Regions from separate parts of the Homo sapiens genome. Here regions 2, 3 and 4 are each linked to region 1. The links come from fine-mapping of genetic effects on gene expression. A gene starts in region 1. Each other region holds a variant in brackets. All regions are shown on one strand. Distances are from middle to middle.

Region 1 (2,760 bases):
TTGATCTGAAAGGTTACAAAAATGGCACAAAGTATCTAAACAGCAGTTCCATTCACTTCTGATAGTTTATACAACACCTCACAATCAGCCAAAGAGCAATAACATCTGTGAATCTATGAGCTGAACTATTTTTTACATCAGTGGAGAGAAAAAAATAATAAAGTTGAGAAAAGAAACTGTTACATTTGCATCTCAGAAAACACAAACCGGAAATCCAACCAGAAAGGTTTAGGTGAAATAGTGCCCTTTGTTCATCTATTGTAGGTCCAAGGTTAAATATATATATATATACACATACATAAAAGTAGCTTTGTCATAAACTGGGTATTAAAAGTGGGAAATGGGGAAAACCGCAATTACTTTTGCACCAACCTAATAAATTTGAATTATGCTGATTTGAGAGACTGTCATATAACAATAACTAAAATATCATCTCAAAATTTGAAAAAATGAATTAAAAATCCATCAGCAGTTATACAATCCAAAGCTGGCAGAGCTCCTGCTTCATAAACCGTATTGACAGTAATTCCGCATGGGAACATGTACAGTACTCAGCTTTTAAAAAGAGATTCTTTGTTAAGGTTTATCTCGAATTACGTGAGTTTTGAATTGTGCTATATCTTCAAGACGTTACCCCTTTCATAAACTACACTGCCCTACACACACTTTCATTTTTTTCAGCTGCGGATCGGATAGGTCTTGTTTAGATACTTTGTGCCATTTTTGTAACTTTTCAGATCAAAGGTGCTTCCCCCCACCTTCCAGCTCCGTCAAATGCTGCAGTCATTTCTGTCCTGGTTAGAAAACCTAGAATCTCGCATGCTAGGTGCTACGTTGTTTTTGCAAATTACTGTTTAGCAGTTATTTAGTGCACAGGTCTTGAAAGCAGACATGCAGACATTCTACCATTTACTGTTACTTTAGACAAATTGTTTAGCTTTGGAGCTTCAGTTGCCTCTTCTGTATATTGAGCACAATCGTATTTTCCACACAAGTTTTATAAGAATTCAAGATGACATACATAGTACGGCGCGCTTGGCAAGTAGTGAGGGTTCTCAACCGCTCGGCAATGGATAAGATAACTTGCTATCTCTCTGGCTGAGGCAGCCCCATTTCAGGAGCTTCTCTCAATGCGGCTTGAGGACTCGACAAAAGGGTGGGGCTTTGGAGTCTAACGCTCTCTGCTAAACTCTGTAAGTTTAATAGGCAGAGTTACACATGGCAAGGGGTCTGGGCGGGGTGGGAACTAGCGCGTCCTCCTGTCACCCTTGCGGCGGCCCCGACGCAGTTGCCGGACTGAAACCAGCAGATCTGGCCCCAGCCGCATTCCTTCTTCCCTCTCCCTCCCAGCTGGGCGGCTCCGGCAATGAAAACACCGCCACGTGGGCCTGCTGCCTTTGCGTCACGCGCCTTTGTCCAATGGAGAGCCGCGTTACGAAGCCAGGGGCGGGTCGCCAGCCGGGCGGGTCCGCCCACAGCTGCCACGGATTGGCCAAGGGGGGCGGTGCCCGCCAGCCGTGGCTTGGGCTCGTGGCCAATGGTGGCCGGAGGCAGGGGCCCCGCCCTATCAGGTGCTCTGGTCCTCGGGACCAGCTGGAGGGGCGAGAAGGGGCGGGGCGAAGCCGGGGACGCGGCGGGGACGGGGCGGGGTAGGGGCGGGGTGGGGACGGGGCGGGGTAGGGGCGGGGTGGGGACGGGGCGGGGTAGGGGCGGGGCAGGACCGGCGACCCGGCCCGTGGAGCCGGCGCGGGCGGGCTGCTGAGGTGGCTGTCGCCGGCTCCGAGCTGCGGCTTCCCGGGCCGAGCCCCCGATGGAGGCCGAGGCCGCGGACGCTCCCCCGGGCGGGGTTGAGTCGGCGCTCAGCTGCTTCTCTTTCAACCAGGACTGCACGTAAGCTGCGACTCGGCCCCTGCCAGGGAGGTGGGGGACAGAGTGTCAGGACCCAGGGGTGTCGTCCTGAGAGCAGCTTGTGGCTTCCGCCTCGAGGCGGCCTCGGCGGGAGGGCCGGTGTCTGCTTCGGACGCATTGGGATCTTGTTATCCCCGTACCCCTTCAGTGGGGTTTGCCGCACCCCCCACCCCACCCCACTCCCAGTGTCCTCCCAGAGCGACAAGGTTGGGCCAAGGGTGAAAGCAGGGAGTTCGCAAAGGGAGTGGTGGGGCTGCGGGGGCCACGGAATATGGGGGGAGCAGGGCGGTGGGAAAGCCAGTGACCAAAGTGGGTGTCTGGGGAAGAGAGACAGTGGCCAAAAGAAAGAGATGAGAAAGGAGAGGAAGTTGCAAGTTGACCCAGGACTCTGTAGTTGGGGCCCAGGAAGATGAGAGTACAGGAAAAACTTTCCCATTTGTCCTTGAGCATCTCAACGTGGCATCTGGGCAGGGCCTCGGACAAAGAGGCAGCCTATCCCTGCGGCCAGGCCAGCCCCTGTCCCATCCCCGACGCAGGGCATCGTGCCTGCCCGCTCTGGATGGAAGAAACCTTTGGATTTCTTTGGCTGTTTTCACATCGCCCACCCAGCCAGGCAGGATCTCCTTCTCGGAGTCCAAGACTCTTTTCCCGGGCGCAGACTGCTTTCTCTCCAGGAAACAGGAGCTCCACCCTGTTGTTTTTGAGTGGATTTTTAATGTTTTACTTCGATGTTCACATTTGGGCTTTGAGAGGGAGCTGGGCTGAAGTGTGTTTCAGGCATCTGCAGGATTCTGTGACTTACAGGCAAACGCCTGTTTCTTTCCCTATTTTCATGGAAGCGAGCCCTGGGGA
Region 2 (2,500 bases), 21 kb after region 1:
GGAACCCAGCACACAAGACAACCAGATCTCCTGACTGCCTTCCCTCCCCAGTTTCACAAGACTAGAATCCCTTCTGCCTGCCTAGCTGTTCTTGAAATTTCATTTGGATAGCAAAGAATTCAGAAGGGGTGAGGAATTGGGGTTTCCAGAGCAAAACTGGAAATGGACGAGTGGCCTCTTCTAAGGCTGGGGCCAGGAATGACCTTGTATCGCCAAAGGGGTGGCAGGGCTGCCAGAACGTGCAGTTAAAGGTTCCGGGGCTCAGCCACTTCCTCCCGTAGCTATGCATGGCAAGTGATAAGAGGACAGCCCTGCTGTGGACTCAGCAAAGCCAGAGCAGGAAATGAGACCTAGGTTCCAACTCTAAATGTTTACTTTCTTTTTCCTTTGCTCTCCTTCCTCAGCAGATTAGTTGAGGTATGTTTCAGCCTGACCTAAAGTTTTTTCTTATACTTTTAGAAGAAACCCACTTAATATACTAACTTGTAATAGACGCCAGTCACTTTTTTTTTTTTTTTTTTTTTTTTTAAGAGAGATGTCTCTCTTGCGTGATCTCAAAGTTTCTGGTAACACTTTGGTTTCTATGGAATTGCTGGAATTCACTGCTATCATGTGCACCTCTATTCATCTAAACCATTGTTTTGAAAATCCTTTACTTAAATGCTCCCTTCTTGAATCCCCTTATAAATAAAAACAGCTTATGTTGGTTCAGTGGTTTGATGGGCTGTTTACTCTTCCGGAATATTATTGAAGCATCTTAAATCCAAAATGTCCTCTTTATTTAGTTTGTCTCAATGTCTAGGCACACCATCTTGACTGCAGACGCAGACCTCAAATAAACTTCCTCCTCGGGAGGTACCCATTTCCCTTATCAAGGCAGGGCATTTGGCTCAGAAATTGCTCGGTTTCTTTTTTTTTTTTTCTTAAGACAGAACCTCACTCTCACCCAGGCTGGAGTGCAGTGGCACTATCTTCACTCACTGCAGCCTCCACCTCCAGGTTTAAGCAATTCTCCTGCCTCAGCCTCCCGAGTAGCTGGGACTACAGGCACATGCAACCACACCTGACTAATTTTTGTATTTTTAATAGAGACAGGGTTTCACTATGTTGGCCAGCCCGATCTCGAACTCCTGACCTCAGGTGACCCACCTGCCTCGGCCTGCCAAAGTGCTGGGATCACAGGTGTGGGCCACCTTGCCTGGCCTGAAATTTCTCAGTTTCTAAATAGGTTCTTGGCAGCTCCTCTTCTCCAACTTGAAGTTACTGGCCAACAGTATATAATCATCTGCAGAAAGACCAATATGTACTGACTTTTCACTATAGGAAGATTTATTTCAGTTTTGAGGAAATCTCTTGTAACCCTAGAGGATAATGGAATTGGAAGAAAAGTAGATGCTGTTTCAGAGTCCTGGGGTAAAATGTAAAAATGAGCAATATATACACACACACACACACACACATATATATATATTTTTTTTTTTTTGAGAC[G/A]GGGTCTCACTCTGTAGCCCAGGCTGGAGTGCAGTGGCACGATCTCCACTCACTGCAACCTTTGCCTCCTGGGTTCAAGCGATTCTCCTGCCTCAGCCTCCCAAGTAGCTGGGACTATAGGCACGCACCACCATGCCCAGCTATTTGTATTTTTAGTAGAGATGGGGTTTCACCATGTTGGCCAGGCTTGTCTGGAACTCCTGACCTCAAGTGATCCGCCCGCCTCAAAGTGCTGGAATTACAGGCATGAGCCACTGTGCCCGGCAAGTCTCATTGTTTCACTGTAGCAAGGACGCAGCCAGTGTTAAATCAGGAGGTCTTCCCCTGTGAAGTTGCTTTATTGGAAGCCTTAATCAGAAGAATCATCAGCGGAAAGCAGTTGTCTGCAAAGCCATTCCTCCCCTTGCCAGTAGGTGGCACTGTAGCTGTACTGTTTTCAGATGCCCTCTCCAGCCGTGCAATCTCTCCCTTGGCCCCAGGCTTCTCATGTTCTGTTTCTTCTTTGCCAGGTCTATGTGCTCTCTCTATCAACCATTCCAATTCTTACCTGGCCTATCCTGGAAGCCTGACTTCAGGGGAGATTGTGCTTTATGATGGAAACTCCCTGGTAAGTTGACGGTGACCTGGCTGAGCCAACCCACCTGCCTTGGCTGTGTGGTCATGGAAGGAGATAGATAAGGACGCCCTGCCGTCGGGGGCTGGAGGCGGTGGGAGTAAGCAATACTGGGGAGTTGTTCAAGAGAAGGTGATACTATTTCCCCTCGGGCTTGCTGTGAGTCAACCTCACCATAAGCCAGCTGGCCAGGCCAAGTTAGACATCTGCAGCATAATGAAAACCACTTGCCAGCAGGGGGCCAGTTGTCTCCCTGAATGTGTCACCCTGTCCCATGCCACAGCCTGAGACAGTGTGCAGGTGTTTCATATTCCCTGCCCTCTGGTCTCTGAGGCATCCCTGAGCGGGACAAGATTGCTGTGGGAAGTTGCCTAAAGATGCGTGCAGGGCGCGCCTGCG
Region 3 (2,500 bases), 32 kb after region 1:
AGAATTGCTTGAACCAGAGAGGCGGAGATTGCAGTGAGCTGAGATCATACCACTGCACTCCAGCCTGGGTGAAAGAGTGAGACTCTGTTTCAAAAAATAAAAACTAAACTAAAATTTCCAAAGAGCCTGTAGTCCTAGCCACTCAGGAAGTTAAATTGAGGCAGAAGGATCCCTTAGGCTCAGGAGTTCGAGACCAGCCTGGGCAACATACTGAGACCCTACCTCAACAAAGAAAAATTCAAAGAGGTAGGATGCCTCAGGCATCTGAAGTGGAAAGGCAGGTCAGGCTTAAAGATGGCAGATGGTGAGGATTATGACTTGTCCTAGGCACAGTACCTCCAGGGGGAAGACAGACAGCCCCTTTGCTTCCTTTGCCCTTTATTTGAGCCCCCGCTCCCCACCCGCCAGGTCATGGCATAAAAGCAGATCCCCAGTGCTTGTTTCATGTCTCTTTCTTGGTTTCCAGGTTATTCTGAGGACGGCGGGGCGCTGCGAGGAGAAGTTATTCCTGAACATGAGTTTGCGACGGGACCAGTGTGTCTTGATGATGAGAATGAGTTTCCTCCTGTGAGCATTAGGAACCCGTAACTGGGCGGCTCAGTCTGTGTGCTTAGAAGGAAACCTTCGCCTCATACGAGAGGCAGAGTCCCTTTCCCTGTTTTCTAATCTATAACAACTAATTCTCTGCTCTAGTATTTGGAAAGCCATAGGATATTTGTTGTACTGTGTGCTTCGAATCCTACAGAGTAGGCTTTAGGTGTCGAGCTAAACCCTGATGGCATTAGAGTCACCGAATACTAATCCAGGGAGTCTTGGTGGCCTCCCTCCAGCCAGAGGCCTGCGATCCCTTACTTTGCTTCTGTAGCACTGACTTTGCTGCCTGGAAGGTAGGAACACGTGACTTGTCTAAAACTTATTTTCCTGAGGCTCCCATGGATGCGTTTGCAGAATGCTGCCTTCCTTGTGCTGGAGGGGATGGTTTCAGAGGGCTGGGCTGTGTGTTCAGGACTCTGAGCTGAGTTGCTGCACTCTGTGAACCAGCTTGACCCTCACTTACCTGCAGCTCTGGCCGGCAGACCCGCACCTCCCCAGCAGTTGCAGACACTCATTAAGAAACAAGTGGCCGGGTGCGGTGGCTCACACCTGTAATCCCAGCACTTTGGGAGGCCGAGGCTGGAGGATTGCTTGAGCCCAGGAGTTAGAGACCAGCCTGGGCAACACAGCAAAACCCCATCTCCACCAAAAAAAAAAAAAAAAA[AG/G]AAAAGAAAAAATTAGCCGGGTGTGGTGTCACGTGCCTGTAGTCCCAGCTATTCGGGACGCTGAGATGGGAGGATCACCTGAGCCTGGGAGGTCGAGGCTGCAGTGAGCTCTGATTGTGCCACTGCACTCCAGCCTAGGTGAAAGAGTGAGACTCTATCTCAAAAAGAAAAGAAAAGCAATTGTGTGCTCTGTGGAGGGCAGCAGGTGCAGGGCAGGAGCTTGCCCGAGCACCTTTAGCTGGGTTTCCCAGCAACCTGCTCAGCCTGTTCCCACAGCTAGGGCCCTCGGGGCTGGCTGAGTGCTGGGCGTGGCTTCTTCCATCACCTGGAACTGAAGACAAGATTCCCTCCTGAGAGCCTGCTGGGGCTTCCTTAACTGCTGATTCTTCAGGCTCCCATCTGGAGTAACATATAGACCGCTCTTGTGAGCTTCAGTCAAAACATCCCAGATAGTCAACCTGAAATCATTTCGAGATGGAAGTACTGATTTGTTTTGTTTTGTTTTTGAGACGGAGTCTTGCTCTGTCACCCAGGCTGGAGTGCAGTGGTGTGATCTCGGCTCGCTGCAGCCTCTGCCTCCTGGGTTCAAGCAATTCTCCTGCCTCAGCCTCCCGAGTAGCTGCAATTACAGATGTGCGCCACCATGCCCAACTAATATTTTGTATTTTTAGTAGAGACGGGGTTTCACCATGTTGGTCACGCTGGTCTCAAACTCCTGACCTCAAGTGATCCACTCGTCTCGGCCTCCCAAAGTGCTAGGATTACAGGCGTGAACCGCCGCACCCGGCCGGAAGTAGTGTTTGGGCCAAGACTTGGAGCATCAGCTCCTAGAGCCAGAGAGGAGCTGCCACTTGGGCACTGAAACAATGTCCATTAGGCTTTGTTATGGAAACTTCTCCTGATCATTGTTTTGTGTCCATTGAGCTTCCAATTGTAAAAGGATGGAGTGCAGGTCTGGCTTCTTTCTCCCGCAGATCCGTGGAACCCTCTAGTGAGCACATTTGGCTTAGAAAACAAAGCTGCGGTGGGGCCCTGCATGCAGGGCTGGGGCTGTTGTTTTGTGATTTCCCACATCGGCTCTGCGGGTCGGTCGCAGCGTGAGCTTTTACATTTCTGGCTTTCAATAGGCAGGTTGTCAGAGACGTGGCTGGCAAGTGAAGTTTATATCTCAGTGGCGGAGAGCAGTTGTTCTTAAAAATACTAATTATAAACTTCAAAACCTCTGTTGGCATGCTGCCTAA
Region 4 (2,760 bases), 26 kb before region 1:
AGTCCTTGGTAAAACAGATAACATCTGCAATGTCTTAATATATTCCGTGGATCTCTTACAAACTAAATTGCTAATTTGTTAATTCTTTGCCATTGTGGCAGAAAACACATTCATTTTAAAGTGAACATAGCACATTTAACTTTGCCTTGAACTATGAAAGTGAACAATATCCTTTGACTCCCCACTTTTATTTTCATGACAAATTTAGGGACATTTTGTTAGTTTGGATTGTCTCCAGAATCTGAGACTTCACCCTCACTTGCTTTCTCTGTCGGGATGGAAAACACTACTTTGTTTGTCAGCCTTTCTTGCTACATTTGATGAGATTCCAAAACTGACCCAAATGGAGCTTTTTCAACCTGTTAAAGGACATCTGTGAAAAACCTGGAACATTTTACTCAATGATGAAAGACTGAATGCTTTCTATCTAAGATCAGGATCAAGTCAAGGTCATCCACTCTCATCACTCTTATTTAACATTATAATGGAAGATCTAGTCAGTTCAACAAGGCAAAAGCAAGAAATAAAAGGCATCCATATCAGAAAGGAAGAAGTAAAATTGTAGAAAACCCGATGGAATACAAAAAAAAAAAAAGATACCACGATAAGTGAGTTTAGCAAGGTTGTAGGATACAAAGTCAAAATAAAAAAATTAATTGAATTTCTATCTACTAACAATGAAAAATTTTAAATTTAAAACTCCCATTTCTAATACTATCAAAAATACAAAACATTTAAAGATAAATCTGACCGATGTGCAAGAGCAGTACACTGGACACCACAACACATTACAGAGATGAATTTTTAAAGACCTAAATAAATGGATAGATTTAATTTGTTTGTGTGCCAAAACAGTCAGTATTGCCAAGATGTCAGTTCTCCCCCATATTACTCTATAGTTTCAGGGCAATCCCAATAAAAATGCCTGCAGTTGTTTGTGGATTTTTTGTAGACATTGACAAGCTGATTCCAAAATTCATAAGGAAAGGCACAAATACCTAGAATAACAAAAACAAAGTTGGAGGGCTAATGGTACCTAATTTCAAAAGTCATTATAAAGCCCCAGTAATAAAACAACATGGTATTGGCATAAATATTAACAAATAGATCAATGAACTGAACAGAGTCTAGAAACAAACACACACATATATGGACAATTGATTTTTTTTCTTTTCTTTCTTTTTTTTTTTTTGAGACGGAGTTTTGCTCTTGTTACCCAGGCTGGAGTGCAATGGCATGAATTCAGCTCACCGCAACCTCCACCTCCCAGGTTCAAGCAATTCTCCTGCCTCAGCCTCCCAAGTAGCTGGGATTACAGGCATGCGCCACCACACCCAACTAATTTTGTATTTTTAGTAGAGATAGGGTTTCTCCATGTTGGTCAGGCTGGTCTTGAACTCCTGACCTCAGGTGATCCACATGCCTTGGCCTCCCAAAGTGCTGGGATTACAGGCATGAGCCACCGCACCTGGCCTGACAATTGATTTTTAACAAGGATGTGAAGGCAATGCAGTGAAAAAGGACCACCTCCTCAACAAATGGTGCTGAAGCTTTTTTTGTTTTGTTTTGTTTTAAGACGGAGTCTTGCTCTATTTCCCAGACTGGAGTGCAGTGG[C/T]GTCATCTCAGCTCACTGCAAACTCTGTCTCCCGAGTTCAAGTGATTCTCCTGCCTCAGCCTCCTGAGTAACTGGGATTACAGGGGCTGGCCACCATGCCCAGCTTATTTTTGTATTTTTAGTAGAGATGGGGTTTCACCATAATGGCCAGGGTGGTCTTGAACACCTGACCTCAGGTGATTCACCCACCTCTGCCTCCCAAAGTACTGGGATTACAGGTGTGAGCCACTGCGCCTGGCCCGGTGCTGGAGCAATTTGATGATTTGTATGAACCAATATGAACTTGGGTCCATGCACATCATAGACAAAAAAAAAAACTCAAACTAGATCATGGATCACAATGTAGAGCTAAACTAACGAATATGTAGAAGACAACATAAGAAATTCTTTTCTGACTTTAAGTTAGCCAATGATTTCCTATGTTTGACACCACAGCATGATTTGTTCAAAAAAACTGATAAATTGGACTTCCTCAAAACTAAGGACAAACAATTAGCCACATCCAGATATGATCAGACATCAAGCTGGAATCATAAAGAAATACTTTCTGCCTGGAAAACTCATAGCTTGCTCCAGGTGGTCTGTCACCCCAGTGTGGGAATGGTTGATATATTTGCTGAGAGCAAATAGTTTATATGCTGAAGGCAATTTGAGGACATCTGGCCCTTCCTTTGTCCACCGATTGACCTTAGTAAAAACAGATAAGGGAGCCAATGGATAGACACACAAAGCCTCCTTTTCTGCCCATTCTTTTTACCTTTATTGTACGGGCAATATTTGGTTTGATAACGCTAAGCTTAATGAGCTATTTAACCTTCACCCGGTGTCTAGGGTTATTGCCCCAGAGTGAAGGAAGTACAAAACTTGAAAACAAAGAGGAATTTTAAAATCCTAAATGTCTTTGCCATTTAAAATATTTATTTTTTTCCTCTTGAAAAGCTAGTGATTGCTTCCTTATTACAGCACCGTAAAAAAAGTCCCAATAATCCTTGTTTCTATATTATAGCATATAAATGAGATGAAACTGTATTTGAATTCCAGTTTTACCTCCCAACAGTTGTGTGTCATTGGGCAAACAACTGAGCCTCAGTTTCCTTGTCTGTCAAAGAGTAATAACATCTTCGTAAGGTTTTTGTGAAGCTAAA

Evidence for each region. PIP is the estimated chance that this variant, and not a neighbour inherited with it, causes the effect.
Region 2: its variant is fine-mapped to the expression of WIPI1 in whole blood (TOPMed, PIP 0.93).
Region 3: its variant is fine-mapped to the expression of WIPI1 in whole blood (INTERVAL, PIP above 0.99).
Region 4: its variant is fine-mapped to the expression of WIPI1 in whole blood (TOPMed, PIP above 0.99).

What each region holds. Positions count from the first base shown.
Region 1 is chr17:68,456,472-68,459,231 of GRCh38, reverse strand. It overlaps WIPI1 (WD repeat domain, phosphoinositide interacting 1), which reads left to right and starts at 1,736. Exons shown (of 13, transcript NM_017983.7): 1 at 1,736-1,890. The coding sequence starts at 1,811. It also overlaps a transcript of PRKAR1A not described here. RefSeq lists silencers at 1,294-1,580, 1,317-1,996.
Region 2 is chr17:68,435,977-68,438,476 of GRCh38, reverse strand. It overlaps WIPI1 (WD repeat domain, phosphoinositide interacting 1), which reads left to right. Exons shown (of 13, transcript NM_017983.7): 5 at 1,998-2,095. It also overlaps a transcript of ARSG not described here and a transcript of PRKAR1A not described here. Among named protein-coding and RNA genes, the nearest start is that of MIR635, 13 kb to the right of the region's middle. RefSeq lists a silencer at 131-220 and an enhancer at 1,937-2,437. The variant G/A (reference allele first, on the strand shown) is at 1,489.
Region 3 is chr17:68,424,142-68,426,641 of GRCh38, reverse strand. It overlaps WIPI1 (WD repeat domain, phosphoinositide interacting 1), which reads left to right. Exons shown (of 13, transcript NM_017983.7): 12 at 467-567. It overlaps MIR635 (microRNA 635), which reads left to right and starts at 2,094; the gene lies at 2,094-2,191. It also overlaps a transcript of ARSG not described here and a transcript of PRKAR1A not described here. The variant AG/G (reference allele first, on the strand shown) is at 1,259.
Region 4 is chr17:68,482,294-68,485,053 of GRCh38, reverse strand. It overlaps a transcript of PRKAR1A not described here. Among named protein-coding and RNA genes, the nearest start is that of WIPI1, 26 kb to the right of the region's middle. The variant C/T (reference allele first, on the strand shown) is at 1,616.